Linked DNA regions of Homo sapiens: all the other regions are linked to region 3. The links come from fine-mapping of genetic effects on gene expression. A gene starts in region 3. Each other region holds a variant in brackets. All regions are shown on one strand. Distances are between the middles of the regions.

Region 1 (8,108 bases), 21 kb after region 3:
TATGTTGGGGGTTTTGATGGGAAATACAGACACTTTAAACTTCTTGCAAAAGGTTTCCCGGCCATTACCCCCTCATTTTAACTTCTCTTCTTCCCAGATTTGCCAATGACCTGTCAAGATGCTCTACACCTATTAGCTTATAAATTTCAGAACAGAAATATCTTTCTTACAGAGAGTGTTTCATGCACAGAGCCTGGGGGGAGGGAGAACTGTTCTGTATAACTTTAGGTTTTCAGTAATATGTCGTCAGCCTGATACTTAAGTTTTCTCAAAAGAACACAGCAGCCAGCCCCAAAGTAAGCAAAATTGATCCTGAGTAGCTTAAGTACTGGTTACGGTGTTTGGTGTTTGTATGCCAGGTCTACCCCTTATGGTTTTAGGATAGTGGTTCTGGTGAATAGTTGATTAGGTCCACTTGCTCCAGAAATCTCCGTGAATAAGATTTGATGGGGTGCTTTCCATCCCTGAAACATTTACTGAATGTTTTCTTATTGCTTAATACAGTGCTGTGTATTTGGGGCATGCAGTAGTGCATAAAACGGTCTCCGCAAGTGGGCATTGCAATATAGTGTGAGAAGTGCCTCGTTAGGGTGTATTGGGGGCCCTAGGGAGGGGAACACGCAGGGGTGGTCAGAGGAAGCTTCCCAGGGGAGATGTGTTTAAGCCAAGTCCTGAAGGATGATAAAGAGGAAGCCAGGAAAAAGTGTAGACATGGGGGTATGAAGAAGACATTCTGTGTAGTGGGAGCAGCCCTTGCAAAACAAGGAGATCCTTGTAGAAAGTAAAAGCACAGCCTTAGACTGTAAAGTAGGACTCATCCTAACTCCAGCATTGCAGGAAGGGAAGAGGGAGGCCGCCGGTGACTCAGCTGCCTTAACCCCTGAGGTCACACAGGTCCTTAACCCCTGAGGCTTTCTTTTATACACAGGCCAACATAAGACCCAGTCTGGGAATTATCCTAAGGCCCAGCCTGGGAATTCTCTTATGGCCCTGAGGGAAGGGAGGATTTTGGAGACAGGATCAAAAACCTAAAAAGCTATCTGTAGGCCGGGCGCAGTGGCTCTCACCTGTAATCCCAGCACTTTGGGAGGCCAAGGCAGGCAGATCACAAGGTCAAGAGATCAAGACCATCCTGGGCAACATGGTGAAACCCTGTCTTTACTAAAAATACAAAAATTAGCTGGGTGTGGTGGCACATGCCTGTAGTCCCAGCTATTCGGGAGGCTGAGGCAGGAGAATCGCTTGAACCAGGGGAGGTGGAGGTTGCAGTGAGCCGAGATTGCACCACTGCACTCCAACCTGGCAACAGAGCGAGACTCCTTCTCAGAAAATGCTATTTGTAAGGAGGATTGGGTTGAAGTATTTGCCCAGTAACATATTAAGGCTATCAGGAGCTGGACGTGGTGGCTCACGCCTGGCCTGTAATCCTAGCACTTTGGGAAGCCAAGGTGGGTGGATCACTTTAGGTCAGAAGTTCGAGACCAGCCTGGCCAACATGGTGAAGCCCCATCTCTACTAAAAATACAAAAATTAGCCGGGCATGGTGGCGCGTGCCTGTAATCCCAGCTACTTGGGAGGCTGAGGCAGGAGAATCGTTTGAACCTGGGAGGCAGAGGTTGCAGTGAGCCGAGATCACACCATTGCACTCCAGCCTGGGGAACAAGAGCGAAACTCTGTCTCAAAAAAAAAAAGGCTCTATCAGTTTGCTCTGACTCTCTTTCTTTAACCAGCAGGTTACGTGACACGTGACACCATCTGCATGTGACCTACTGTCTTCACTGGGACAGGCCTTCTAACTTGGGTCAACTGGCCTGAACCCATACGTAGAATGATTGATATATAGTTCACTAAGTTAAATTATACATTTATAGACGCAAAAAAAATTTTGACATACAGTGTGGTTGTGTTGTATCCTACTGCTCTAATATTAGGAAAGGGGCTGGGATGCTAGGTCAGCTGGGACCCTCTTTTTCTCGCTTGCATTCATCTCTTTTTCTCTCTTACTCTCACCACTTTTCTACCTCATGTTGAGTAGCGCCATGAAGACCCCTCCTTCATCACTCTGCCTGCAGTTATCCTGGGAAGCAATTATAAGCTTTCAGCCTCAACCATGCAGACTAACTGGCTCTACTTCCTTCACTATTGCAGTTTCTAGTTCTGTTCGTAATTGTTGCACAAGACTTTGTGCTATTGCAACTACTTGGAATGCCAGTTCCAGGCAGAGTGCCCTCTGTTGTAGACACCTTGTGCTTTGGGAAGTTGTCTGTGATTAGGGGAGTAATTTTCTATTTGAGGTTGGTCTCAGGAAGGGAAACCACTCCTGACTCCTGCCTGAAAACTCGCCTCCTTGCTCAGAAACACTAATTACAGGGGTCGTTTGATGCTCTCACTTAAATATTTTAGTCACTCACACATTTATTGACTATCTGTATGTGCCCAACCCCATTCCAGGTACTGAGGTTAAAAATGAGTGAGATGCAGTCTCTCCATACCACAGAGCAAAGGAGGAAGCTTGTTTGTGTATATGGAGCATGGCCCATGCAGGGTTACTTAATGCTAGAAACCAAACACTCTGAGGCAAAGAAAAGGTGTAGGGGGTTGGGGGGCAGGGTAGAGGAATAGTCTACCCAGACTGCCTGTCACTCAGACCAGCCACTCTGCTGCAAAAGGAGTTGGCTTATCTTTTTTTTTTTTTTTTTTTTTTAAGCACTTAGCAGTTTCCTAGGGCTGCTATCTGCTGTAACAAACTGTGTGGCTTAAAACAATGGATATTTATTCTCTTGCACTTCTGGCAGCTTAGAAGTCTGAAATCGAGGTGACAGCAGGACCATGCTCCCTCTGAAGGCTCTAGGGGAGACTCTTTCCTTGCCTCTTCCTAGCTTCTGGTGGTGGCTAGCAATCCCTGGTGCAGTGTAACTTCAATCTCTACCTCTGTCTTCACGTGGCATTCTTCCCTATGTATCTCTTCTGTCTCTGTCTCCAAATTTCCCTCTCCTAAATCCTGTCATTGAATTTAGGGCCACCCTAATCCAGTATGCTCTCATTGTAACTTGATTACATCTGCAAAGACCCTATTTCCAAATAAGGTCACATCCCCAGGTTCCTGGGTTAAGACTTCAATGTATCTTTTTTTTTTTTTTTTTTTGGAGGGGGCGGGAGTAGTGCACCATTCAACCATGACATCTATACTCTGTCCACCAAATGCAGGTGGGTTTTGTACAGACACCAAAGCACATATACTTTGCACTTGGGCAGTAGCCCTTTGGGAGTCACTTGGGATCTATTTCCTCTTAATTTTCTTCAAGTTTAAACAAATTTGATCATCCAAAGGAGCCATACATAGCCCAATGATGAGAAACGTGAGCTTTGGCTTTAAAACTGGTGTTGAAGCC[T/A]GCCTTTCCAATTTATTGTGAGTCCTGGAGCAACTCGTGTAACTTCTTTAATCCTCAGTTTCCTTATCAGTAAAATGGGAATAGTGAGAATACCTACACCACTGAGTTGTTATTAAGCCTGCATGAAAACCTACATGTAATGATATTCACTGTGCTGAGCACTTTACATGATCTCATATAGTCTTTTCAACAACTCTTAATTGATTGGTATTTAGACTTCTGTTTTACAGATGCAGAAATAGAAGCTAAGTGATTCGCCCAAGATCTCCAAGATACTAAAAAGTATCAAGAGTTGGAATTTGAACCTGGATTTCCACTGTGCTCTATTCCTCAAGACCCTTTTTAATAGTTATGTAGCGCTACAGTCTAGGGGTTCCTAAACTTTTTAAGGAAAGTCCAACTTTTTATATCCCTAAAGCCTTGCTCTCACTGAAGCCTTGATTGAGGCCAAGAGAGAATGCCTTGCTGCTGCCCCCATGAGCCACTGCCCATCTAAGGAATTCCCACAGATGCCCACATTTACCCACATGCTTTAAAAGCTCTTGTTTATTGAGTCTTTGCTGTTCACCTGGCTGCATATTACATTACAAGGCAAGGTAGCATGATAGTTACATGTCTGGGCTCTGGAGACAGACTGCGTATGACCTGGTGTCTTCTTAGAGCAAGCCTTCTAACTTGGGTTGGCTGAATCAAATCTATATGTAAAATGAATGATATACAGACAGTTCACTAAATCAAAGCCCATCTCCACAATCTACCTGACCTCGGACAGATGACATAATCTCTGTATCCCCCATTTTCCTTATCCCTAGGATAAGGGCTGAGAATAATAAGCCCCTATACAGTTGTTGTGAAGATTAAATAAGTTAATGCTTGTAATGCATTTGAAACATGACCCAGCACATTGTGGCCTACTGAATTTATCTTCTACTACCTTTGAGCAGGCATCATTGTCCTTACTATTTTACAAATAAAGAAACTGAGGCCAGAAAGGCCATATACCACTAGAAGGTTCGAGCAAAGCAAGGATTCAGGCTCAGGCCTGTTTGACTCCAGAGCCCAGTGGTTACAGCAGGGACTGTACTTGATTCTTTAAATCCTCCTTCTGCTACCTGTCCCATTCCTCCAGTGCCTGGACCATTGGAGATGTTTAATCAGTATTTATCCACAGATAAACCCATTGCATCTATGCCCTCCTACCTAGGCTTACCTGCTTTCGAGATCAGGGGATGTGTTAGAAGGATGTGATCAGTCCTTATCAATACCCTTTCTGTTTTTAGTAGTTTGGATAACATTTATTGAGTGTCTACTATATGGCCAGGCATTGTGAGAAGCATTTCACACATACCTTTCCTCATTTACTTTCAGAACCTTCTAAAGGAGGCTTCACTCTCTGCATTTTATGGAAACTCTGGCTTACAAGGACCCCATCGAAAAGGATGTTCCCTCTTTGTGGCCACCTTCTTTCATGTCCTTTACAGCCGGACATCCTATTTTGGCCAGACCATATAATTGAAAATGATCTTAATAATGAGACAGACAGAAAATAACCTCACCATTTCTCTCCTCTTCTTCTTCTTCTTTTTTTTTTTTTTTTTTTTTTTTTTTTTTGAGACAGAGCCTTACTCTGTTGCCCAGGCTGGAGTGCAGTGGCGCGATCTCGACTCACTGCAATCTCCGCCTCCCGGGTTCCAGCGATTCTCCTGCCTCAGCCTCCTGAGTAGCTGGGATTATAGGCCCTGCCACCATGCCTGGCTAATTTTGTATTTTTAGTAGAGACGGGGTTTTACCATGTTGGCCAGGCGGATCACTTGAGGTCAGGAGTTCTCTCCTCTTCTTAAAAGCCCCAGAGTCCCACCATATTTTAATTATTTGATGGAGGGCCAACCACTGCCTGCCACAAAACTTAAAGGGGCACAATTTCCCTTGTGATCTTGGTGAAGGGAGCCCATAGAGTTGTGCAAGGCTGCTCTGGGCAGAGGTGAGTGAAGCACTGCCCCTTACGAGGCTGCTGGCAATCTTGCTTGTTTTTCCATTTTCCACCACAAGAGGGCAACATATGACCATGAATGATTTGAAAATAAAGCGATTCCTTAACTGGTTCTCTTTTTACCAAAGAATTTTAATAATTGTGCTCCTGGTAAGTTAGAATGGGGAAAGTTCTTCTGTTAGCGCCAAGTGAATATTCTTAAGGGATTGAAATTCAAATTGTCTTGAGAATTCTCCAAAAAGGAAATAAAAGACATAGAAAAATGTTATATGAACCACATAAATGGCTGTTTTTATAGGTCAAAATGTTTGAATATGGGTCATTTCTGATAAAACAGGAGACTCCTTCACACGTGCCTTACTTATGAAAAGGGGTTCCTAAGCCTTGCACATCTTCAAATTGAGGAGATTGTTTTCAGACGTAACCACATGGGTTCAGAATGGCAATTATGCAGATGGAGAATGCCTTCCATGGCTTCTTGTCTGCCCTGTGAGTGCTCATAGCTCTCTTGTAGGCTCCCAGATGAGTACTTTTTACTCCATTTTAAAATGATTTGTTGGCTTATCTATCTCTCCTTCTGCACCAAAAGTTTCTTGGCAACTTGAGTCTTCCTGAGGTGTACAGTGCCTGGTGAAATGAATACAACACATCGGTCTATATAGGACATATTGGGTAGATGGATGGGTGAACAGATGGACAGCCAACTGACGCGTGCTAAAGGTTGTACACTCTCTGAGGCAGAGGCAGCTGTTATGTTTGTTTTTATTTTCAAAATCTACTTCAGGAGTCTCTGTGAACATGGGATTCTGTAGAGCTCTAAGCCATCTGGCCCTTGTAATTCTTCTGACCTTGTACCTTCTTCCAATTTTAATGTAATTTCTCCTTTTCTTTAGAGAACATTTCCTAACTCTACTAAAATGCACATAGCCAATGGCCCGTCCCAATTGTTGGGTATGAAACACGCCTGCTTGTTTTCAGATTCAGAGCAGTGCTAAAGGCTAATACTTACGCAGGGCTTGCAAAGCACTAGAACCAGCTGGTGCTAAGCTCTTTACATTTGTAAACTCCTGTCTCTTAATACAACAAATCTATGCAGTAGCTACCACTTTCAATCCCTGTTTCAAAGGTGAGAAAATAGAGGCACAAAGAGCCTACATCCCTTGCCCACGGTCCCCTAGTCAGAAAATGGTACTCGGCCTGTCTCCTTGCTGTGGACTGAGGGAGCTCAAAGGAGAAGGGGAGGAAGTGTTCTCTCTTCCTTTTCTTGCCTGTACTGGACAGCAGGTGAGGCCTGGCTCACAGCTGGCAAACAGGACCCAGGTACTACGGAGCCCTGGTCAGCCCTGTAAAGAGATGTAAGCAGCTATAAGTAGCAGAAGCCCAATTAGGGTTCAGTGAGCCCCTATGAGGCCTGACACACAAGGACTGCACACAGAGAGAGGGGCGTCTCCTGCAGCCACAGGCAGTGGTGGGGCAGATGGACTTCAAGACCCTGAGACACATTTTGGGAGGCCAGGCGGGCAGATCGCTTGAGATGAGGAGTTCGAGACCAGCCTGTCCAACACAGTGAAACCCTGTCTCTATTAAAATTACCAAAATTAGCAGGGCATGGTGGCACACACCTGTAATCCCAGCTCAGGTGGGATTGAGGCTGAGGCACGAGAACTCAGGAGGCTGAGGCACGAGAATTGCTTGAACCTGGAAGGCAGAGGTTGCAGAGATTGCACAACTGCACTCCAGCCTGGGAGACAGAGTGACTCTGCCTCCCCACAAAAAAAAAAAAAAAAAAAAAAAAAAAAAGACCCTGAAACAAGAGGAACCCAGGCAGCGTCTCCTGGTTGTCTCAGCACATCTGTTTCATTTTCCTCTCTCTCTGCTGACCCATTTGTCAATGGAAATTAGGTTTCTCAGTGTGTGTGGTTTTTTTTTTACAAACTCATTTAATCAAGCACCTATGAATATTTCAAATTTTTAAGTCAAATATTTGTTTTCTTTTAAAATTCCTTGTCTAATAAGGAAAACTTTTCAAGTATTCAAGTTGTTCTCATGTAATCAAATAATAACAGCAGATCCTTGTACAGGGCATACTATAGCCACCCTGGTTTCAGAACTATCTGTAAATTGCTTCATTCAAACTTGACTACAACAAGTAAAGTAGAGCTGCTATCATTATCTCCATCTTGACAGATGAGGAAATGGAAGCACAAAGAGGTTAAGTAACTTGTCCAAGATCATATTACTAGTAACTGGTAGAATAAGGGTTCAGACCCTGTCACTTTGGCTTTAGAGGCCATTCCCTCAAGTACTATAGTATACTGTCTGCATGTGATGACTTAAACTTATAAATATAATACAGTCCAAGTTTTCTGGAATGTTCCACTAATGTTTATAATTTTGATAAAATTCTTCTCATAAAATTCTTCTCATACCTCCTTAAACTTAAAATCCTGTCTAAATAAGTAACACAACCTGCACTTAATTATAAACTGGAACCACAAGGCTAATCTTTAGATAAACTAATATCCCACATTTCTTAAATGTATTTCAAATGCCAAATATACCTAGTTTTCCCCCCCTTACTCCAAAAATATTAATACTATGTTCATTTTATTATTTGTATCCTATGTGATATATTTCATCATCTGTACACTTAATTTTAAGAGAGTATGTTTTAAAATGCCTACTTAAAAAACCATTCTCTCACCTCAAGTGATGAGGGGTTACCT
Region 2 (8,108 bases), 45 kb after region 3:
AGTTTGTCAGCTAGCTTGTCATAATATAAAGATAACAGCTCTGAATCCCAATTCCCACTTTTCCTAGCCATGTAAGTTTGGGCAAATGTCTTTACCTCAGAACACCAACATTCCAATGTATCTGTAAACTGCAGGTGATAATCATAATATAAACATTTATAACATATCTGCCAGGTACTATTCTCAGTACTTCATAGCTATTAACTCATTTAATCCTTACATCAATCCTGTTAAGTAGTTAGCATTACTACCCTCATTTTGCAGATGGAAGAGACTGAGGCACAGAGAGTTTAAATAACTTTCCCAAAATTATTATACAGCCAATGACTGGCAGAGCTGGGATTTGAACCCAGACACTCTGATTCCAGAGTCCAGGCTCTTAAGCTCTAAGCTGTACAACCTTCTGAGCTTTTCTGAAGGACTGAATGGGAAAGCACAGGTATACCGCAGGGCCTTTATAATGGTTGGTTTCCTTTCCTTTCCCCACTCTGCCCTTCATGAACTGGCCCCACCTTTTCCAACATAATCTCTCATTGTTCCTTTTTAGAGAACATTCTTCTCCAGTCAGGCGTATCTCTCCACTAGTCCCTGAACACATTTCACACATTCCTGTTGTTTCTCATGCCATTCTTCTCCCCAGAATGCATCCACCTCACCCCTGAATCCTCACATACTTTAAGGAGTTTTATTTTCTGATTCTGCATACATTTATTCCATGCTGTATATAGTTGTGGGACCGTATGTAAAGAAGATCCTCTGTGAAGAACTCGGTGCCCCTGCGAACTCGGCAGTTAACTGCGTTCCTCTGGAGGACTTTGGAGGCCACCACCCTGACCCCAACCTCACCTATGCAGCTGACCTGGTGGAGACCATGAAGTCAGGAGAGCATGATTTTGGGGCTGCCTTTGATGGAGATGGGGTGGGTATAAGTGCATTTAAGTGAACTCTGGTGCAGGCCAGGCCTGATCCTGCAGATGGGGAAAAAAGTGGGCTGCTTCTGCCAGACCCAGGGAATAACTGTTAAGGATCCCTCATTCTGACCCGAGGTCAGAACTAAATTATTAGAAGCCCCTCTTGAACAGGAATAGGAGTCATTGAAATGAAACCCACACATTTAATTTCAGACATCCATACTTGCTAACAATGGCACGATGATTAGGTTCTGATTATGATAGAATGACTGGTATTTCCTGAGCTGGGTGAGTTCTAGATGCCTGTCTTAAGGTGGGTTTCTGCTCTCAACCAGCAGCTGGCTACTTATTTAATCTCTGGACAAGATTTTGGTCTTATAATACACCCATTCATTCATTCACATGAGCTGAATATTGAAGCTGTAATTTCATTGCCTATATGAAGATGATATTGAGAGAATTAACATTTTAATCATTCTCTACCATTAAAATGTTTAGAAATAAGCTGTTTTATTTACAAGGGTGACTATGTACCAGACAAGGAAGAGATGTGTCTTAGGTTTATATCCCTGGTATCTCACTGATGGTAGGCACTGTATACATTTACTTAGTTGAAAATATATTTTTGTTGTTGCTAGTGTTACCATTAGCTAGAATCCACTGTTTCCTGAAAAATGATTTTTCCCTTATCAAAATGTTGGGAAATTAAAGGGGTTCCAGCAGACATTATTCTGTAGTACATCTTTGTGATGAGTGCATTCTGGGAGTGTTTTTTGGCCACCCTCCCAGTTACTGTGGTACACAGACTGTGGTACACAGTTTACCCAGTAGACCTACCAAACTATGTAAACAGCCAATATTTCTTCTCTCATTGCATTTTCCCCTCCCCTGGGAAAAAGATGATTGGTTCCAGAGTCTGAAAAAAGTCTAGGAGGTTAAAGTTAGCTGGCCTCTGGAGGGAGAACAGAGGACTCAGCTCAAAAGGAGGTTGTGCTTGGACTTTAATTGAAAACAGTTTTAACTTTTTGGCATGGAGGTGCCTTCGGCCCAATGGTACTGTATAAACTCATTGAAAATAAAACCCAGTGTTAAAAATGCAGTATGGAAAGGAGATCAATTTCAAATTTTATAGTTTTACATTTTATAAAACCCCCATGAAAGATAGTTTGATTTCTTATAGTTTGATTAAAAGGTCTTTCTTTGATCCTCTCTTCTCCCCAAGGATCGAAACATGATTCTGGGCAAGCATGGGTTCTTTGTGAACCCTTCAGACTCTGTGGCTGTCATTGCTGCCAACATCTTCAGCATTCCGTATTTCCAGCAGACTGGGGTCCGCGGCTTTGCACGGAGCATGCCCACGAGTGGTGCTCTGGACCGGTAGGTGTCTCCATTCCCTTGGCCTTCCTGTCTTAGGTCGTCCCAGTCTTCACCATACCCTTCACTGTGCCTGGAACACGTGTCCTTCCCTTTCAGCATGGGCATCTGATGCATAGAGTGTGCTGAGCGATTCTTGTGTGAGGGGATGGTTGGCTTTTTCTGGATTCAATGCCCCTCTCCGCACTCCCTTGGCACCCTGGGCCTCCTCCTCCTGGCACTTACCACACTGTGTTCTAGTAGCTGTTTTCTTGATGGGCTGCCCTGCTAGACTGTATACTTCTGCAGAGAAAGGACTGTTTTGTTCACCATCTGGACTCTGCCTGACCATAGCGTGCCTGGCACATAGTAGGACAAACACACACACACACATACACGTATAATTTTTTAAAGTTAATGAATAGTTGAGTGTTAATGAATAACAATGGAAGTACTCAAGACATCATTCTGGAGGATCACTTTTCTTTTGCAGTGTGCACAGAGTGTGGGTGAAAGAGCAGTTTGAAGTAATTTTAGAGTTTCAACGACTGGATCGCTCTTGCCCACACAAACACAGTGAATGTTTATATATCACTTCATTGTACAAAGGCTTTGAGGTGGCTTGTTAGATCACACTTAAAAAGTTGAAAAATGAAAGTCATAACAGATGAGGACCAGGGAAAACATTAGTTAGAATATGTCAGGTGTGCAGGAAATGTTTGATGAATAAAAGGTAAAGAATGAATGAATGAATAAAAGGTCAAGGCCAGGGAGGAAAGTAGGCTGTAATATATCTCTAGGCTCTTATAATAATAGCTGATATTTATTGAACATTACTTTGTTGTAGACACTAAATATTTTGCATGTTTTAATTCATTTACTTCTCAGATGAACCCCATGAGGTAAATGCTGTATTTAACACCATTTTTCTGGTGGGAAAACCAAAGGACGAAGAAGTAACTTACCTGAGGTCACCCAGCTGGTAAATGGCTGACTCAGGATTTGAACCCAGAGCCTTTGCTCCCACTCACTGGGCCATGCAGTTGTTTTCTGTAGAGGGGAGATGGTTATAGAATTGGTGCTGACTTTGCTTCAGCTAACAAGAAAATAGCCACTAATATCCATATAGTGGTTTGTAGTTTGTATAGTGTTTTTTTACATTCACCATCTCAATTGATCCTCACAGCAGACCTCATTTTAAGGAAGAGGAAATGGAAAGTCAGGGAAGTTAGCAGTCTTGTCCAAGATCTCACCACCAAATTAGAGCTAGCATTTGAGCCCAGCACGTCTACCATCAGGTCCTGCATTTGAAATTATGAGCTGGTTTGAGGTCACACTATCATATGTTAGGCCTGTCAGGTCCTGGAATACCTTCTATGTCATCCAAGAACAGTGTAATTCCAATTTTTGGAAAAATTGATAATCCACATATAGAATCACAATTGAAGTACCTCATTACCCAGATAAAAGTTTATTGTACTTTCATAGTTTTCAAAATCATAGATTTGATTTTTCCTCAAATATCAGAATGCAAAGCTGACATTGCTTTCCTGGAAATAAGGCAAACATTCTGGGAAGCAAATCTCGCTCAAACAGTGAATGGAACTTATCAGGTAACTTTTCATGTTCAAAGGGAAAGGAATTTTTTTTTAAGTCACTCAGAGGTTTTAAATAGTTTAAAGATACCTAGAGAGAAATAAAAGACGTGTTAGAAGGGAAGGGGAACCACTAATCAGTGTGGGTGAAGCCAGTACTTAGGGGAGACCCCACTGGGCGTTTCCCCTGGGGAGACTTCTGATGAGACAAAAGCAGCACTGACCAGAGAGCTGAATACTGGGCGGTCGGTCATCCTGGCTTTGTGACCTTTGTCTGATCACATAACATTCTGGGCCCTGTTTCCTTCTCTGTAAAATGCTAACTGCCCAGACCCAGTATGTCATGATTCTGTGATTACAGGTGCATCAAAACATCATTCTTCTCTTCTTTATAGATTGATTATAGATGCAGTCTGTATCCAAAATGTGGATTTAAATAGCTTAAACAGCAGCCCTGAACATTTTACTACGGATGCTTCTTCTAAAATATTAAACTCCATGATCTGAATTAATTCTTTCTTCTTCCGCCTTCTCT[GAATCCACATATAAT/G]AGCCCATTGTGCACAAGGTTTCTCTTATGATTTTCCACCAATCTTAGAATTATGTATGACTCTGAGCAATGCTAAATGGGACCCTTGATTACAATAACGATTGCCCTTTTCCGTCCCTCACATGGCCACGCTAACAGTCCTGCTGTGATGTAACTTTGATTTCATGCCTTTGAAGGGTGGCTAGTGCTACAAAGATTGCTTTGTATGAGACCCCAACTGGCTGGAAGTTTTTTGGGAATTTGATGGACGCGAGCAAACTGTCCCTTTGTGGGGAGGAGAGCTTCGGGACCGGTAAGTCACACTCCTGTGCTAGCATTTTCCTCCCTGTAACCACTATTTCCAGTAAAAGCTTAGACTGCTAAGGTAGCACTGAAATACCAACGGTAGCCGATGTGTCCTAAATCAAGGCACAAATTATTTATAACAACCCTGATGAAATGTGCACATTTGAAAAGGGGTGAGCACATTCAGCCAGAAAGGCTAATTTTACTTTCAGAGGATCATATCGACTCAGACAGGAAGTTGGGGGGCCTCCTCAGCAGCGTGGTCATTGAGTCTGCAGGGATTAAACAGAGCGATAAACAGATTTTTCTTCCTTCGGTGGTCAAAGAAACCTTTATAAATGTTTTCATTTCTGAGAAGAAATACGGTGGAGCAAGTCGGTTTTTTGTTTTTATTTAAGAAGAGGTTTCAGCACAGCATTAAATCTTTCTCTTTTATAGGCCCAAGTTTTCTATAGCAGAGTAATCAAGGCTAAATGAAGGAAGACCATGAGGGTGGAACTAAGTTGCTAGGTGATCAAGAAATTAAAAATACATCGTTGTGCCTGAGGATGTTTGTGTAATTGTATTAATATTAGAGTGAAAGAAGGGTACATAGTATTCTCAGGGGATGACCCCAGACCTATAGACCTCACTCTCTGCGCTCTCCTTCCTCCTCTCTGCTTGTCCAAATATTGACCCGAACTCCCACCTCCTTCACGACCTTCTCTGCTACCTCATGCTGCCTGTATCAGTCTCTCTTTCCTAAAAGTCTGTTCAGGTGTGTGGCCCTGTCCCATGTATCAGTCTCCGGCCAGGTTATAAGGTAGTTAAGTGACTGCATCTCTTCTCCTTTTATTCCCTCTACCCAATATTTTTAAGTAAATGTGCTGATCTTGGTCCTATAGTACTCTACTGTCACCCTTTAGTGAAGAAAAGAAGATCAAAATCAAGCATTCTCTCAGCTTTGCAATTGAGTTGCAATTCATGCCAGGTTAAACAGAACAGAATACTGACTTCATTTCCTTTCCTATAAGTCTGGAGGTAGAGCAGGTAGAATGAGCTGCTAAATTGGAGGCACATATTTACAGAGTTCTAAGCAACTTGATATTTTCGAGAGTGGTAATATTCCTTGGCAATGAACTGCCTTGATAGAATTGGAAGGTATGAAGAAGGCTGGATGAGTCTTGGGGTTGAACAACTTCCACAACAAAGGCTAGACAGTTTCCCAAAGTTGTGGGTGTTTAAATCAGAGATTACAAGGCCACTGCTTAGTCCTTTTCTACTTCATATAATGGGCATGGTGCCATGCTATTCTGAGGGATACTACATGAGTGCCCAATGAGCCTATGAGGTGGTCTTCTCCCATGAAACTCCCCACAGGGTCATCTAGTTCAGGCCTGGCTTCAGTCATTCTTTATGAATGAAGATGTCTTTGAAGGCAGCAACTGTGTCAAAACCTTTGTTTTCCTGTTCTCCTGTACCAGTATCAGTGTTGAGCCTAGTGAAAAGATAAAAGTCTAGAGTCAGGTTTCCCAGAGCATGTGAGTATGTGGAAGAATACTAGTTCCATGAGAGGGTTCTAGGGGTCAAGAAAAATTGGAAAAATTGGACCACACTTCTCTGTTTTGGATATTCACAATGATATTAGCATTTGAAGATTCCAGAACATTCTGCCATAAAGAATCCTGTTAGTACAGTTTTGCCTAAATATAGTTTACCACTATATATAATAATTATGATGATATGATACAATATCATCACCACAATAATGATTATTATTATTATCATTTCGTAGTATGTACAGTAACTTCTTTTTCCACAGACCCATGTGGGAAGCCTTGGTCAAGAGGGATCAGAGCCCCAGAGCCAAGTAGGAATCCCTGGTGCTGACCCACAGGGAACAGGCCTGAAGACAGGATAGCACAAGCTGCTCCTCTTACACAACAGGCCTTCAAATACAAGAAGCAGCTCTCAGGTCCTTCCTTCTTCAGGCCGTCCATCTTTGTTTCCTCCAGTCATTCCTCATTTCACATTGTTTATAGACTCAGTGCCAGACTCTAGGTGCTTCTGAGTTTGCCAGTGCCACTCTTAGAAGGTGATGCCCAGAACTGAGCCCAAATCTTCCAGGGTTGGCCTGGCAAGTGAAGAGTGGGGTGGGATGATTATTTCTAGTGATTAGGACACTGTATTTTTCTTGACATAACTTTCCTTTATGTTAGTTTTTAGGAAGTTGCATAATACTGTTTAGCCCACATAAGGTTGTGGGTAATTAAACCCTTAAAGTTTTTACCTAGAACTATTTGCCAAGGGAAGTCTCTCATGTTATGTTTGTGGAATTGATTTCTTTGAACCAAAGTATTAGACTTTAGACTATTGTTAAAGTTTGTTCTCATTTATTAACACATTCAACAAATACCTAGTACCAATCATGGTTTTAGCTTCTCCTTGGTATATTTCATGTCCAAAGAGAGAATGCTCTTCATTATCATGAGGATAATCACAAGCTCTTTCTCTCTCTCTCTCTTCAAAAAAAGAAAATTTTTGTGTAATATTTCTGAGATAAACATTTAAACAGCCAGGCTGCATAGCCATAGATCGCTGTTGTGAACGAGTGCAGCTGGGCTTATTTAACTGAACTCCTGATCTTCTTATTTATAGAGGAGTTAATTTTTAGCAACCACGCCCCTTGCTAGTGAATGTTTCCAACAGTTCTTTCATAGAGTTTCTCAGGGTAGACATTAGTGACTCTATGAACTTTGAAACATTTGAATTCTATAGCTTAATTGAGCACAGAGTGCTTTATTTCTGTATTTTTCCAGGCGATAGGAGAGACAATTTCTCAAAAACGTTTCCTTGACCTTTCAGAGTGGGCCAAATCCCCTGATTATTGGCTCTTGTGGCACCATGTACCTCTTCTTTGTTGTACTTGTTGCAGCTGTGATTTTACAATTACTTATGGTTATTTGATTAATGTCTGTTGGCTGTATATGCCATGAGGACAGAGATCTTATGTGTCTTATCCTGCATTGTGTCCCTCGAGCCTCCCGTAGAGCCCAGCATAGAACAGGTGCTCAGTAAACGCTTGTTGAATGAGTTCATGAACACTATTCACTTGGCACCTTCCATTTAGACAGATTCCTGCTATTGGAAAAGAAAGAACTTTAAAAGGTATCTGATGTAAATTCCTGTATGATGCTGGAACCATAGTGACTGGTCACTGCTTTCTGGCTGAACCACCCACCTCAATGGAGAATCCACACCTCACCTCTTGCCGTAGTCTGGGACCCTTGTAATGACTCAACACCACTTCCACTCCACAGTCCAGGGTTGGGAACCCCAGGGTCTTTGCGGGAAGAAATGCACTTTTACAAAAGAAAAGAAGTTTGCTTGCAAAGAGGTGCAAAGGAGTCTAACTTCAGGACTGGTCCACCGAGTA
Region 3 (8,108 bases):
CCTGTTAGCCAGGATGATCTCGATCTCCTGACCTCATGATCCGCCCACCTTGGCCTCCCAAAGTGCTAGGATTATAGGCGTGAGCCACCGCGCCCGGCCGAGACTATTTTGTCTTATTCATCAAACACCTTTCAAAGAGCTGTCATTTAGTACAAGTTCAAAACATATTTATAGAGTTAATGAATCAATACACGAACGAATACATCTAAATGGTAAAGAATAATTCATTAATGAAATAATGAGGGCCGGGTGTGGCGGCTCATGTCTGTAATTGCAGCACTTTGGGAGGCCGAGGAAGGCAGATCACTTGAGGTCAGGAGTTCCAGACCAGCATGGCCAACATGGCGAAACGCCATCTCTACTAAAAATACAAAAATTAGCTGGGCATAGTGGCATGTGCCTGTAATTCCAACTACTTGGGAGGCTGAGACACGAGCATTGCTTGAACCCCAGAGGTGGAGGTGGAAGTGAGCCAAGATCGTGCCACTGCACTCCAGCCTGGGTGATGGAGTGAGACTGTCTCCAAAAAAAAAAAAAAAAAAAAAAAAGTAAGGATTACCACTTAAAAGGTATTTCAAAGAAAAGGAAAATACATAATATGTACTTATCATTTTAAAAATAATACAAATTCCCTATAGAAAACCTGGAAAATCCAGATAAAATATAAAGAAAATAAACATTGCCCTATCTTGCAACTCAGTGGTAATCATTGTTGCATATCTTGGTATATTTCCAATGGCTTCTTTCCCGATTTCAGTGCTACCCACAGGGGAATAAGACTCCTTCTCTTGCTTTTCATAAATACTACAACTTGGAAATCTCTGCAAGTCAATTTTTGAACGTGGGTAGAACCTGTGAATACGATGATACATTACTCCTATGAACACGTTACAAAGGGAGATTATCCAGGTAGGTCTAATCTAAGAAATGGGGACCTCAATCCTACAACTGCAAGGAAATAGATCCTGCCAGCAATCTGAATGCGCTGTGTTAAAATCAGATCAAACTTTAAAAATTTTTAAAAGTTTAGCATGCATACAAAGAACAGTTTACAAACTGGAAGACATCTAACCAAAAGTGGCAAGAAGCCCAGCTCACAGCAGTTACAGTACAGCTTATAAACATTGAGGAAGAAGTATTTTGACCTTCGTTACATTCTTTTTAAGGCGAGTAGAGCTGTTAAGCTGATTTGTCTATAGCTGATTGGTTTAATTTCATTGACTCACACTGTCAAGGACATTTTGTGTTTTGTTTATGTCTAGAGCAAGTGTTTCAGGGAAATAAGGATGACTTAAGTTTTGGCTACCTGGCTATGGGTGGTTGGACTTAAAATATCTAAACTGGAGCCTCTATTTTTATTTATCTTTAACACTTGAAAGAAATTCTTCCCAGAGCCTCCAGATAAGAAGCCAGCTTGGCTCTTGACTTCAAATCAAGGTGTTCTTCCCAGAGGCTCCAGATAAGAACGCACCAAGCTTGGGTGGGTTCTTATCTTGAGGCTCTGGGAAGAATTCAATGAAATTAAACCAACTGGCTATAGACAAATCAGTTTAAACAGGTATGCTTGCCTTAAAAAGAATTTAATGAAGGTCAAAATACTTTCTCCTTGATGTTTATAAGCTGTTATATATCCGTGATTACCAGGATTGAACCTGGCCAAACCTTTTGATCTATAGAATTGGGACTTCTTATCTATAGAATTGTGACATCATAAATGGGTGTTGTTTTCAGCTGTTGAGTTTGTGGTAATTTGTCATACAGCAGTAGAAAAGTACGGGTTGAGTATCCCAAATCCAAAAATCCCAAACCCAAAATGCTCCAAAATCCAAAACTTTTTGAGTGCCAACATGACACTCAAAGGAAGTGCTCATTGGAACATTCTGAATTTGGGATTTTTGGATTTGGGATGCACAACCATTGTAATGCAAACATTCCAAAATCCGGAACAATCTAAAATCTGAAACATTTCTGGTACCAAACATTTCGGATAAGGGATACTCAATCTGTAATACAAGGGGATTGCATAAAGGCATGATTATCAGGAGGCAAGGAACATGGGGATCATGTTAGGTCTGTATAAGGGGCCACAGTAACCCTGTCCAGAACAGCAGAACTGCCAGTTAACTCATAGAATCATGAACTATAATCATGAATGGGGGTTGTCTTAAGCCACTCAGATTTAGACTGGTGTGTTATGCAGTTAAAGCTAATTGTTACAACTTCTGGGGTGAGAGAAGTATAGATCAATTCCTCTTAAATGAAAAGCTCCATCATATTTCCAAAGATACTGAAGAATATAGAAAGGGCATGAGATCTGAATTTGGGCCCGTGACTTTACAAGTTATCATTTATTGATGACTTACTTATTAGCACTGTGGTAGGAGCTGTATATTCTCTATCTAAACCATACAACTCTAAGGTAGGTATTTTGAAGGCTCAGTGAATCTATGCTATATTTTCATTTTGTGGAGTTAGATAACCTTGATTACATTCACCATCCAATCCTCAATTCTCTCGTCTATAAAATGGGCTTGATTATATTATTTAATTCACAAGATTACACTGCTCTGTAAACTCCTGTGCAAATATTAGAACTCATTACTAGCAGTCCAGGGTTCCGTTTTCACATAATATTTGCCACCGAAACTCATCTATAGTGACTACATCAACACACTGTATCTACATAGCATGTACTATATGAGCATGTATATCAACACTTGGTTTGTGAGAGTCTGCACTCTTATGGGTCTGTTCGCCTCCCTGCTTGATCAAGACATACCAATTAACTACCAAAAGAATATAATTCACAGGTGAATGATATGCTCTGGTTTTGGAATTGGGGAAGGGGAGCTAATATTTTTGAAGGCCTCTATGTTTCAGGCACCAGGCTAGATGATTTACTTCTAACAGCTGATTATGATTGAATTTGTTTGGACTGGGTCATTTAGAAACCACCTCAAGTAATTCTACTGTGAGCATGGGTCACAGTAGGATTCTACTGTGTATCCATGACTGAGAATTTCTGACATACAAAACCCCATTAAATCTTGCAAAAATATTCCAAAGTAGGTGATATGTTTATTTTACAGTAAGGAAATTGATGCCCACGGACATTAACTAACTTTCCCAAGAGCACACACCTTGTAAAGCCAAGTTTTTTGCCACTTTACCAAAATGACAGGTTTCTTGAACAGAGGAGACAATCACTCTCATCAAATTAAGGGAGATACTAAACCGAAAAGCAAGAAAGACTGAAGATTCCTACTTAATAATCAAATCCCCTTGGTTGACCTTGCTATCCCCCGTGAAACTTTTCCAGCCATGTCAGTCCTTGTTTGTTGATCTCCTCACTTTATTTCTATTACATGAGTAACTGGCTAATTTTGATGGTGTTCATACTTATCCTTACCATATATTTGCTCCTACATTTGTCAAGTCCTGCTTGTACATTTCCTAGTTGCCAACCTGGTGTCACAGCGGGCAAATCATGGGAAGAGCCCTGGTTTTGGAGCCAGACCACCTGAATTGGCCTCCCGCATGGACTTAGCTGTGTGGCAATGAGACAAGGCATTTTATTCTTTGAATTTCAGTTTTGTAAGCATAAAAAGGGGAAAAATAAAACCCAGAGTTTAGTAAGGTTTAGAAACGCTACACTCAGCAAGTCATAGCTAAGTCACCGTCACCAATGGTAGTCAAGTGTGTGGTGCAGCAGGAAACATTTGGAGTCGACTCCTTTACGGAACTCAAATGCCCTCACATTTAGGGAGAAATAGAAAGAATTACGACTCATGAAATCGAGCTGGGGCTGGCACTTCTGACCCTCCCAACAGGTTTCCAGAAAGCTATTTACACACGATGCATTCGCCAAACCACTGGAAATCATTCTACCCTGTACTTTTTTCCACCCTGCCTCACGTCCTTGCCCTATGACCGGGTTCCTACCCCAACCTCTGCCCCAACACTTAGAGGAGGAGTTGCGGGCCTCTTTTTACAGTGGATAGGATTCCGAAGGGGAGAGTAAATCAGTAAGGCTCCACCCATTTCACAGGAGGCCTAGAGACCGGCGCTCCCCTTTCCCCTCCCGCCGGACCTGCCAGGAGGTGGGCTGGCGCGGAGGGAGGGCCCTGTCCCCTGTCCCTTTAAGGAGGAGGGCCAAACGCCGGCCTAGAGTGCGGCGTAGCCCCCACCCGCCGTGCCCTCACCCCAGAGCAGCTGCAGCCTCAGCCGGCCGCCCCTCCGCCAGCCAAGTCCGCCGCTCTGACCCCCGGCAGCAAGTCGCCACCATGGTGAAGATCGTGACAGTTAAGACCCAGGCGTACCAGGACCAGAAGCCGGGCACGAGCGGGCTGCGGAAGCGGGTGAAGGTGTTCCAGAGCAGCGCCAACTACGCGGAGAACTTCATCCAGAGTATCATCTCCACCGTGGAGCCGGCGCAGCGGCAGGAGGCCACGCTGGTGGTGGGCGGGGACGGCCGGTTCTACATGAAGGAGGCCATCCAGCTCATCGCTCGCATCGCTGCCGCCAACGGGGTAAGGGATGCGCGGCCCCGCGCCGCTGTGCACCCTGGCGCGTGTGCGACGTGCGGCCCGCGGCGCCCTCCCTCGCTCGGGGCCGGCCGCTTCCGCGCGCTGCCGCCTCGGTTTCCACCTCCCGCTCCTCCCTCTCCTTCGCGCTCGCTCTTCTGGCCTGGAGGCCCGACGGAGGTCGCCGGGCTGGGGAAAGTGGCCACGGGACCCGGCAGACCTGCTCGCCTGACTCCCGGGGCGCCGGGAGGTGCGGGCGCGGAGCCTCCCAAGGTCACGCCCGACTCTCCGTCTCTAGCCGCTGCCTTCCCTCTCCCCGTCCCCCGCCCCTCCCGAGGCGTCTGACATTTGCCCTAACCTTGCAGCCTTGGAAGATACGATTACGGCGCAGAGTGCTGTCGCCTTAAGCAGGAAAGGTTAGACTGCCGCCGCCTCGCCCAGAGCCCCCTCGCATCCCGCCCGCTCCTCTGCTATTCTCGGCTAGGACTGGCGCTTCCCGCTGGCTCGGAGCCCGACACTGTGGGGCAAGGGTGGCGAGAGCACCCATCCCCCTGGGGCGTCAGGTTGGCAGATCTCAGCAGGCGGGTGCCAATCTTTTCTCCCCGCCCCCTAGTTTGCCTTGGTTCCGAACTCCTGCCCTTTGCGCGGCCTGCTTGCTGGGGGGCAGGCGTTTGAAACATCTAGTCTCTGCCCAGTGGTGCCCGGGATCTGTTCCACCGACGGGGCTGGAGCTGAATTTTCATTAGAATGGCAACATACCCAAAGACGCCCTTACGCAAGCAAGCAGTCGTGGCAGGCCAGGAAATTACCGCAACACCTTGGTTCCGCCCCCGGCCAAGGAAAGTTAACTGACTTGATTGGGCGGGTCCACTCGGATAGGGGAAATTAAAAAAAAAAAGTTTTTCAGTAAATCTGATATATGGAAATGTGGGGCCGGGCATGGTGGCTCACGCCTGTAATCCCAGCACTTTGGGAGGCTGAGGGTGGTGGATCACCTGAGGTCAGGAGATCGAGACCATTCTGGCTAACACGGTGAAACCACGTCTCTACTAAAAAATACAAAAAAAAAAAAAAAAAAAAAAATTAGCCAGGCGTGGTGGCGGGCGCCTGTAGTCTCAGCTACTCGGGAGGCTGAGGCAGGAGAATGGCGTGAACCCGGGAGGCGGAGCTTGCAGTGAGCTGAGATCCCGCCACTGCACTCTAGCCTCGGCGACAGAGCGAGACTCCGTCTCAAAAAAAAAAAAAAAGAAAAAAAAAGTGGATTGATAAGTTGGGGCTAATTATTCACTTACTTTTGTAAAACATTTCTAAGGAGTTCTGAGGACCAAGTTTTCTTTCTATATTTTAAGTGAGATTTGACTTATGCCCAATTCTTCTGGAACGCATCCCCTGAAATGGATATTTTTATTCATTTTAATAGTACTTTATTTATCTTATTTTGTTGACATTGAGTACTATTTGCCAAGCACTATGGTAAGCGCTTCATTTCTGGGTCTCATTTATCCTCCTGCAGCCCTATAAGGTAGATGCTATTATGGGTATCTTCAAGTTGCCAACGAGGACGCTGAAGCTTAGGTAGGTTAAATAATTTACAAAAACTATAATGGCAGCACTAAGAGTCCAATATAGATCTGCCAATCCCAAGAACTTGAACAGCTCCTGAGAATGAAGAATGAACAGCCCTTGATCTTGAAGATCTGTTTTCCAGGCTCCAAAATCTAAACTGGGCTCTATCTACATCTGCCTTCCTGGGCCAAACATTTATAAGCATCAGTGAGAGAAGATTGCCTGGATTTGTTTACTTTGTGGTCCTGAATTTTCAGACAAGCGCAAATTCCCATGAAAGAAGAACAGACAATAGCTGTATCCCAGTAGATCATTTCCCTGTTACCACCTGTGCTGAATTTGCATTTCATTCATTCATTCATTTATTCAGTCAGTCATTCAACAGATCCTGTTGAATACCATGTTCAGAGAAATGTGTGGACTAAAAGGATGATGCAGACCCAAGAGTTGTCCTTAAGGAGCTTACAGCAGAGTGGGAATTTTAGGTGCCCAGATGGAAATTTGTCCATTTGGGAGTAGTGTGGGGTGGGAAGGAAAGAATTAGTTAAGACTAAAAAAAAAAGTTCTTAAAACTTCATCACCCTTTAGCCATTGCCCTATTGCTCTTCTCTCAGCCAACCTTTGTAAAAGCTTTCTGCATTCACTATTTCTCATTCTCACCTCCGGTTTACTCGCCATTTCACTGCTTCTGCCCCCTCCACTACTCCAGTAGAATTGCTCTTGCCAAAGTTACTAGGGACTTGCCAGTTGCTAAATTCATGGAATACACTCTGGTCTAATCTTATTTGGCCTTTCTGCTGCATTTGGCAGTGCTGATTTTGTACTCTTGTAAAGTTCTTCCTCCCTTGGCCTTGCTTACTCTCCTGATTCTACTCACACTTTTTGGAAGTTCCTTCATGGGCTGCACATTGACTATCCCCTAGGTTTCTTTCTTCTTTCTTTCTTTCTTTTTTCTTCTTCTTTTTTTTTTTTTTTTTTTTTTGAGACGGAGTCTTACTCTGTCGCCTAGGCTGGAGTGCAGTGGCGCAATCAGCTCACTGCAACCTCTGCCTCCCAGGTTCAAGCAATTCGCCTGCCTTAGCCTCCTGAGTAGCTGGGATGACAGGCATGCACCACCACACCTGGCTAATTTTTATATTTTTAGTAGAGATGAGGTTTCACCATCTTGGCCAGGCTGGTCTCGAACTTCTGATCTCAGGTGATCCACCCTCCTCGGCCTCCCAAGGTGCTGGGATTACAGGCGTGAGCCACTGCGCCTGGCCTATTCCCTAGGTTTCTACGCTCAGGTTGTTCTCTGATTTTGTTCACTCTCTCTACTCACTCGGGATTTAAATATGCTACTCTTTCTCTTGTGATATGATTCAGTCCAGATGGCATCTTCAGAAACCTTTCTTGACACCCCATCCCTACCACTCTTCTCCACCTATTAAGTGCTCCTTTCCCATAGATAATTCTAGAATATATATATTAAATTCTAGTGAAATTTTCCGTTTACATGTCAACGGCCTCCAACTAGAGAGTAAGCTTCTTTAAGTCAGACCTGTGTTTTACCTGTATCTGCAATGCCTAGGACTATGTAGCATTCAATGAATTCTTGTTTATTTGCTCTGAACTGTGAGTCACTTTTGTATTCTAGCACTTGATTTAAAGCCAGCATGTAGCTGGTGACCAATAAATTTATTCACATCAAACATTTATTATGTGCTTGCTTTGCCTCAGACATTGTACTTGAGATACAAAATATTTTTGCCCTTGGGAAAGACATAGTCTGGGAGGGGTGGTATACAGGAGTAAGCAGACAGCACAATGTGTCAGGTGTTGTGATGGAGGGATGTGCAGGTGTCTTTAACCTGAGGGGCTGTACTTGGGAGGGGAAGATGAAGGGAGGGAGGCTCCATAGAGGGGTGGTAGCCGAATTGAGTCTTAAAGAATGACTTGGAGTTCCCAGAGTGGGTTTGTCTGGTAGGAGGAATTCTTAGCAGAATGAATACAAATTGAGGGAGTTTAGATTAGATACAA
Region 4 (8,108 bases), 55 kb after region 3:
GAAACAGTATCTAGTAGTTACATTACACCTCACAATGTATAAACTATTTCTACTTGCTTTTTCGTAGTAATTTCTCACAGTTATGAGAGAGAAGTTAGCATTATTTCTGTTTTGCAGTTGAAGAAACTGAGGCTCAGAAAATGTGATTTGTCCAAATTCAAGTAGTTTACAAGTAACAGAGCCTCAAATTCAGGTTTATCTGATTCTTAAGTATCAAGCTTTATCTGCTGAGCCACAGAAAATGTGATTTGTCCAAATTCAAGTAGTTTACAAGTAACAGAGCCTCAAATTCAGGTTTATCTGATTCTTAAGTATCAAGCTTTATCTACTGAGCCACAACTGCAAAAAGAATAGCTTTAGAAACACGTACCTGCACCATTGGTATTTTCCACTGGAAACTTGGCATCATTCATCAGAACCCTGAAGAAAATGAAATTTGCTCCAACTTCCTGAGTATTAATTGAATTACCTGGAATTTTTGATACATCCAAGGTGATTAGTGATGAACCAGAATATCCAAAGAGGCTGAGGATTATGCAATTGGAATTGGATATTTGTTTATGTTACCCAGGGCAGGTATTTTGTTTATAGTATTAGGTGTATGATTTAGTTATCTCCAAGTAACTTGGCCAGAGTTGGGTAAGATTTTTAGATTTTATTTTCATTTCCACATAAAAGAAAAAATCAAATTCCTTGCTTAGGGCAGGAAAAGCCACAAGGAACACTGCCTTCTATGCTTTCAGTCTAGCCAAAAGAGAAAAAAGAAAAAAAAATTAAGGAGAAAAAGAAGGAAGAAAAAAACCCAGTGGGGCACAGACAAATAATTCCAAGCTGTATATGCTGTCATGAATTCCCAATATATTAGGGAAGCTGCCAGAATCTTGCTTCTCAGGATGAACTGTTGCCAAAACATATCATTTGCAAAAGCCGTAAGAGCCAGAGAGCTTTTTGCTCCTTAAAATAGCAGTAAGGGCAAATAAAAGTCTAAAGATAGTAAAATTAGGTAAACATTTTTAAAATATGTTATATAAAGCACTAAAAATATTGCCTACTCTCTAGTTTTGCCTGCATCCGGGTTTTGAGGACTGTTAACTTCTAAAAGTAGTATCCTATTGAAGAGAAAAGTCTTTTGAAAGAAAAAGTCATGTTTTTTTAAGAACCAAAAATAGAAAGAGAAAGTGTTGGAGTAAATTGATTGGTTGATTCATTCACACAGTCTTTCATAATTAGTTATTTACCGTATTCCTTGTGCTATGCTAGTCACCAGACTTAATTACAAGGATAAATAAGAGATGCCCGTAAGAAGCACACAGTTAGTGGGGAGAAAGGCTCACAAACAGATGGTTGAGACTCGAGGAGGCTGATGCCACCCCAGATGTTTTGTGCAGGTTGCTACAGGAGAAGAAAGAGAAGGGAGTTCATGACTGCCTAGGGAAGTTGGGAGCTAGTCTTAAAAAAGAGAGGACATTTGAGCTGGGTCTGAAAAGATGAAGAGAGGAAGGAAAAACACCACGTGCCTCCTGCATACCCAGCATGGTGCTAGATACTCTAACAATTCCAAGAAGAATAAGACCAGCGGGAAGTGCAGTAGGGCAGGCACATAAAGAATTCAACATAGGATAATGTGAGAGCATGATTATAGAGCAATTGTGTACAGTTCTATTCAGAAATCAGAAAATAAGGCTCCATGTAGACTGCTTTCTTTCAGAATAAAGAGTTTAAAGGCAAAAAAATGAGAGTTGTGTTCCATATCAGGCTCTTGGAAAAGGGTGTCCATGCATATAAGCACATCCTCCCGAGAAGCCCATTTTAAAATTTTGTTAAAGATTTTAGCAAGGACCTTAGCAGGAGACAGATGTCTCCTTTAAGAGACATCATTAAGGTTTGTTTAACCAAACCTTAATGGTTAAAGAACAGTGTCTTGGAGTTGCTGGATCCATGAGTAGGTCCAATTTGAAGGCTTTGATCCTTTTTTGCCAAATTGATGTCCAGAAGGATTGTGCCAGCGTCCACTCCCACCAGCTCTTTGGTGGAATCCCGTTTCCCTTTTATTCTCCTGGCACTGGCTGTTCGGATTTTTACACTTGTGGATTTTTACACCTTTTGTCAAGCAAGTAGCAGTTTCTCATTGTGGTTTTAACTTTAATTTTTCTTCTTAAAAATAACACCAGCTTTTTATTATACTAATTGGTTGGGTGTATGTGTCTATGTGTATTGTTTGGCAAATCGCCTATTGATATCCTTGGCCTGTTTTTCTATTGAAATTCTTTTTTCTTATTCATACATAAGAATTTTTTCTATATTGAATGTATTAAACATCTGCCTTAAAATATATCAAATGTGGCCGGGCATGGTGGCTCACGCCTGTAATCCTAGCACTTTGGGAGGCCGAGGCGGATGGATCACCTGAGGTCAGGAGTTCGAGACCAGCCTGGCCAACATGGCGAAACCCTGTCTCTACTAAAACTACAAAAATTAGCTGAGCATGGTGGCGGGCACCTATAATCCCAGCTACTCGGGAGGCTGAGACAGGAGAATCGCTTGAGCCTGGGGGGCAGAGGTTGCAGTGAGCCAAGATCATGCCACTTTACTCCAGCCTGGGCGAAAGAGCGAAACTCCGTCTCAAAAAATAAAATTTTACATATATATATATATATATATATATATATATATATATATATATATATATAGTATTAAACATCTACCTTAAGTGCTATCCACTTTTAAACAACCAGATCTCTTTAATTTTTTAAAGTTTGTCAATGGGCTTTTAATTTTGTCCATAGTAGTTTTACACTATAGAAATGCTGATTTTTAAGTAGATAAATACATCAGTGTTTTCTTTTATGAATACCGAATTTACATTATTTATCACCCCTAAGATTTATATATATAAATATATAAAAAGACATGTATATTAATATAATATATACTAGTATTTAAAAGCTTTCAGGTTTTACATTCGAATTTTTAGTTCAACTGGAATTATTTTTGTTATGGTGTTTTATAGGGAAGAAAACAATTTTTTAAAGCTATTTATCCAGTTATCCAAACGCCATTTAAAAAGTAATCTACTCTTTTCCCACAGCCTTGCAGTGAGACCTTTGTCATACTCAAGCCTCTTGTGTGCTTGGATCTCTTTCCAGATGCACTCTTGTTCTATTAAGCTACCAGACTATTTGAATTATTGAAATTTTGTAATGGTCATGTTCTTCTGCTGTTTGTTCATTTAAGATCTATTGTGTTTTCTCTTCACATTAATACTTTATAACTGATATATCAAATTCCACCTAATTATCTCACTGACATTTTTATTGACTTATGCCTTACATTTCTAAATCACTTTGGGAAGCATCAATTTCTTTTCAGTATCATGTTGCCTACTTAATATGTGATTCCTCCTGTATACCCAAGTCCTCAGTCAGGCAGTGTGACTCTTTTATTTGGGTCTGCACACCTACTGTTGAGTACTGTATTAGTCTGTTCTCACACTGCTATAAAGAACTACCTGAGACTGGGTAATTTATGAAGAAAAGAGGTTTAATTGACTCACAGTTCTGCAGGCTGTACAGGAACCATGGCTGGGAGGCCTCAGGAAATGTACAATCATGGCAGAACAATGAAGAGGCAGCCGGCACCTTCTTCACATGGCTGCAGGAGAGAGAG[A/T]GTGAAGGGGGAAGTGCTATATACTTTTAAACAACCAGATCTCATGAGAACTCACTTACTATCACCAGAACAGCAAGGGGGAACTTTGTCCCCCATGATCCAATCACTTCCCATCACGTCCCTCCCTCAACATGAGATTTGGGTGGGGATGCAGAGCCAAACCATATCAAGTACCTTCTCAGGTACTGGGAGAAAGCACGTTTCTTACAGCAGCTTGCTGTCCCCCCTCCAGGTTCTGACCACATCCGTGAGAAAGATGGACTGTGGGCTGTCCTTGCCTGGCTCTCCATCCTAGCCACCCGCAAGCAGAGTGTGGAGGACATTCTCAAAGATCATTGGCAAAAGTATGGCCGGAATTTCTTCACCAGGTGAGCCACAGCCCAGCTGGGGTACAAGGTAAGGTGGGGAAGTGGGCAGAGAGAATTCTTGCGCATCCACAGCCTCTCCTGTCTTAAGTGCTAATAAAACCCTAGGTCATCCAGCCTCTCTCAATTGGAGACTTTAAAAATAATCTGGTCAGGGATGAAATGAAGTCAATTTTTATGTCAGCCATAAAGAGTGAGGCTTTAAAAGTTTAGCTAACATAATCAAAAGAATAAATGCTTTATAAGCATTTTAAATGTGTCCATTGGGTGGACATGATCATAACATTGGATTTGGATTCAGAGAAATGGATTAGAATTTTATTTCTTCCCCTTACTAGATTGGGGAGCCATTTAGCTTTTCTCTGTACTCAGTTTTGTCATCTGTAGAAATGGGAATAACAGTCCAGCTGTTGAGAGGATTAAATGAATAATGAGTCTGAAAATGTTTTGTTAACTTTGGGGCACTGAAAGCCTAGAAACTTTTTTTCATAAATTATAGAAACAGTTATGCTTAGTCCACATCGACTTTTCTGCCTTGTGAAATAGGTCCCCAAGGGCTATATACTTGTCAATAATTTTTTTAATTTATTCAACAGATATTTACTGTATACCCGATTTCCATCGGGTACTTGGAATTCAGCAGTGAACAAAATACTTAGAATACTTAGTAATTATTCCTTATCATGCGTACTTCTATTTTTAAAAAGCATTAAAAAATTTTTGACAGTAGTACTTTTCACTAATTCCAATTTGCCTTTCCCCCAGTTAGTGTAAAAATCTAACAAGAATTTTTCTGGACCTCAGTATTCCAATTATAGAGAGAAAATATGGTAAAAAGGATATTAGATGAATTGTTTATGTATAAGAAATGAATAGGTGTAATTTCTCTGGACCTCAGTTGCCTGTTCTATAAAATGGGTGAGTTAGACTAGAGAATTTAAAAAATATATCCCAGATTTTATAGTCCGTGATCTCTGGATAGTCAAGAAAGAATTCAACTAAGTAAATTAAGCTCCTTAATCAGAATTATTTTATTAACTTTGGACGGATTCATTGATCTCTTTCTCTCTCACGTTACTGTTTTGTGGAAGGAATAAGTAATAACTACCTGACACCACACAGTAGCCCTGGGAACCAAGGCAAAAAAATCCCTACTTTATAACAGACAGAAAAACCTGGTCATTCAGAACAGCAGTCATGAACTGTCTAGAACCTAGAGTATCATAAAAACAAGGCCATGTCTGTTTTTGTGCCCTAAGCACCCAACTCATAGTAGAGACTGCATAAATACGTTTTGAACCGATAAATGAATGAGTTAACAGGTGAACAATAGCCAGAGTAGAATAAGGTTAGGAGGGGTTGTTCAGAGAAAGGGTCACACCCTTGAATTAGTCACAATCCTCCATATAAAAACTATTTTAACATGATTTTATTAATTATCAAATATAATTGCTAACCAAGTATTACAAATCAAATCCTTAGTACCTGCATTTATGATTAGTTAAAACTCCATTATACCTTCCACTTACTGAACAAAAGCGCTAGGCACTTTTGCATGCATTGTCTCACTTTAGCCTCAAAACAGTTATTGATAAGGTAGCTGAGATTCTGAGAGATAGGGCAGCTGGCCCTGTAGTCACACAATTAATAGCCAATAGAGGCTGGATTCATAGCTCATCTGTCTGATTGCAAAACCCAGACTCTTCTATTCCACCCCTCTGTGCCTAGGGTTTAGAAAACATTTCTCTGGAGTACCCAGAGGTCAAAAATGTAAAGCACAAACACCTGGTTGTAATTTCTTGTTGTTTATCATGTTAACTAGGGGAAAGAGCTGACTTTAAGATTAAGGGGACTGTTTGGCCCTTGATTCATAGAATCCTGGAGCCAGAATAGGCTGGCCTTAATTCCTCAGCATTTCTCATGTCTCAGAGGTGTCATCTTGCATATATGATATCTATTTCACGATTACAAATAAATATAGACTCTGCTATCTTGAGCTTCTAAAAAATAACTCTCTCAAGAGGGTGTATGCCACTAGGTCAAGAAAAGCCACCTGTACAAGTCTTTAACATCATAAGAAAGAAGTCAAAAAGAATTCTTGAAGGAAAACTCATCTTTATAGAATTTCATTTGTGATGCACTTTTTTCCTTGGCCCTTTTTCATCCGCACTGGGCCTCTTCTGTCAGGGTGAACCCAAAGGACCTTGGACCAAAATCCACTGCCACTGAAAGGAGGGAGGCAGAACTTAAAATAAAACAAAATTTAAAAAAAAAAATTGGGAGAGCATCAGGATAAACAGCTAATGCATTTGGGGCTTAATTCCTAGGTGATGGGTTGATAGGTGCGGCAAATCACCATGGCACATTTACCTATATAACAAACCTGCACGTTCTGCACATGTATCTTGAAACTTACTAAAATTAATGAAAAAAAAAAAGGCATTTTAGATGTAAAGAGTCAGTGTTTGGCGTCTTCATCTGGTCGGTGAAAACTTGGCCCTGCTTTAGGAAGCTCCTGTGGAGCTGGAACTCTGCTTAGTCAAAATCTCAGCAGCCTCAGGCAGGTCTCAGGCTGGGAGCAGGCCCAGCATTCACCCCAGAGAAGCCCAGGGAGCTTGGAGGAGAAGTGCCTGAGTCACGTGCTCCTTTCAAGAGAGTTCTCCAGAGATAACATTGCTTTTCATTTTACCTCCTCAGGATGTGGTGACTAAATGTTAGATAGCATCTTTCAAAAGCCTTTGAAACATCTTAGAGCTTTATTCTGTAGAAATGCCAAGATGGGTGTTTTCTGCTTATTCAGAAGCTCATAACCCTTCCCTGAAATCCTCCAAACCCTTCCTTTCATCCCTGGCCTGTTCCATCCCCAGTGACTGACAGGCCTGTATTTTTTTTGCCAGCTTCTTCTGAAGTTAGATAGTTTTGCGGGAGGGCCAAACAAATGATGAAGAAAGTGCTGACTGATAGGCCTTGGTGTGATCTGCAGTCAGCCCGTGGGCCTCAACTTCGTGACTTCTTCCAGGTATGATTACGAGGAGGTGGAAGCTGAGGGCGCAAACAAAATGATGAAGGACTTGGAGGCCCTGATGTTTGATCGCTCCTTTGTGGGGAAGCAGTTCTCAGCAAATGACAAAGTTTACACTGTGGAGAAGGCCGATAACTTTGAATACAGCGACCCAGTGGATGGAAGCATTTCAAGAAATCAGGTAGAAACAGACCGGTGTGTAAGTGAGAGAGAGACCTCAGAGCTTCATCTCTGACATCTCAAGGGAAAAATTAAAAAGTTCCTGTTGGCTATTTTTCTTTTGCTGCTGTGTTTTTCTAGGGTAGCTGTTCTTACCTGGTTTTCTGCTGTCCCACGTGACTCTCACATGCACTCGTTGGGACAGTGGTTTATGCCCTTGTTCTGTGCACTGTCCAGTACCCTCATTCTGGGATTCTTAACCTGGACTCCAGAGGGATTTTTGCACTCTCTGGAATGATATGCAAGATGATGTGTCCATTGTACATGCAGAAAGGAGCCCCAGAATCTAAGAAAGAGGGAGAACTGTGGGAACTTAGATGTCAACTCCTCTCTTTTCTGTCAGCAGATTATAGCAGAGTGACAGCATGTAAGTGGCATTATACTTATACGTTTCTCTCGTATGTTCTAATTTCTAAAGGAGAGAAAAATAGATGAGGCATTCCCAGACTTAGAAACGTTGACCATCGTCATTCGCAGCACATGAGTGGCACCCCACCTAACACAGCAGTACCTGGCAAGACGCCACAGTTTAGGACCTGGAGCATCTCTAGATGTGGACAGAATTGTTAGTGCTTCCCTTACTGTGTGCCGGGTACCCTAGGCTGCAGGCTGGGTCAGGCTTTCTCCTGGCTTCTCATGAACACTTACGCACCAGGGTTCTCTCACCTCTGCTTCTGTTGCCTGTTGTCACAGAGTAAACTCATCTCTCACAATTCATAATAGAATAAAGAGCAGGATGAAGATTCTGTTACAACCTCCCAGTTTACTTTTTTCCAATTGACCCAGATTTTTGGCCTGGTCCTTGTCAAGGCATCTCATAGGGTTTGGAAGGGCCG

What was found. PIP is the estimated chance that this variant, and not a neighbour inherited with it, causes the effect.
Region 1: its variant is fine-mapped to the expression of PGM1 in whole blood (TOPMed, PIP 0.99).
Region 2: its variant is fine-mapped to the expression of PGM1 in tibial nerve (GTEx, PIP 0.94).
Region 4: its variant is fine-mapped to the expression of PGM1 in whole blood (TOPMed, PIP 0.92).

Annotation. Positions count from the first base shown.
Region 1 is chr1:63,610,578-63,618,685 of GRCh38, forward strand. The region is part of intron 1 of PGM1 (phosphoglucomutase 1); the gene reads left to right. Among named protein-coding and RNA genes, the nearest start is that of PGM1, 21 kb to the left of the region's middle. The variant T/A (reference allele first, on the strand shown) is at 3,393.
Region 2 is chr1:63,634,101-63,642,208 of GRCh38, forward strand. PGM1 (phosphoglucomutase 1) reads left to right here. Exons shown (of 11, transcript NM_002633.3): 5 at 729-919; 6 at 2,134-2,288; 7 at 4,585-4,700. Among named protein-coding and RNA genes, the nearest start is that of PGM1, 45 kb to the left of the region's middle. The variant GAATCCACATATAAT/G (reference allele first, on the strand shown) is at 4,395.
Region 3 is chr1:63,589,206-63,597,313 of GRCh38, forward strand. It overlaps PGM1 (phosphoglucomutase 1), which reads left to right and starts at 4,206. Exons shown (of 11, transcript NM_002633.3): 1 at 4,206-4,529. The coding sequence starts at 4,284. RefSeq lists enhancers at 4,193-4,482, 5,183-5,242 and a silencer at 4,523-4,822.
Region 4 is chr1:63,644,619-63,652,726 of GRCh38, forward strand. PGM1 (phosphoglucomutase 1) reads left to right here. Exons shown (of 11, transcript NM_002633.3): 8 at 3,899-4,034; 9 at 7,051-7,234. Among named protein-coding and RNA genes, the nearest start is that of PGM1, 55 kb to the left of the region's middle. The variant A/T (reference allele first, on the strand shown) is at 3,667.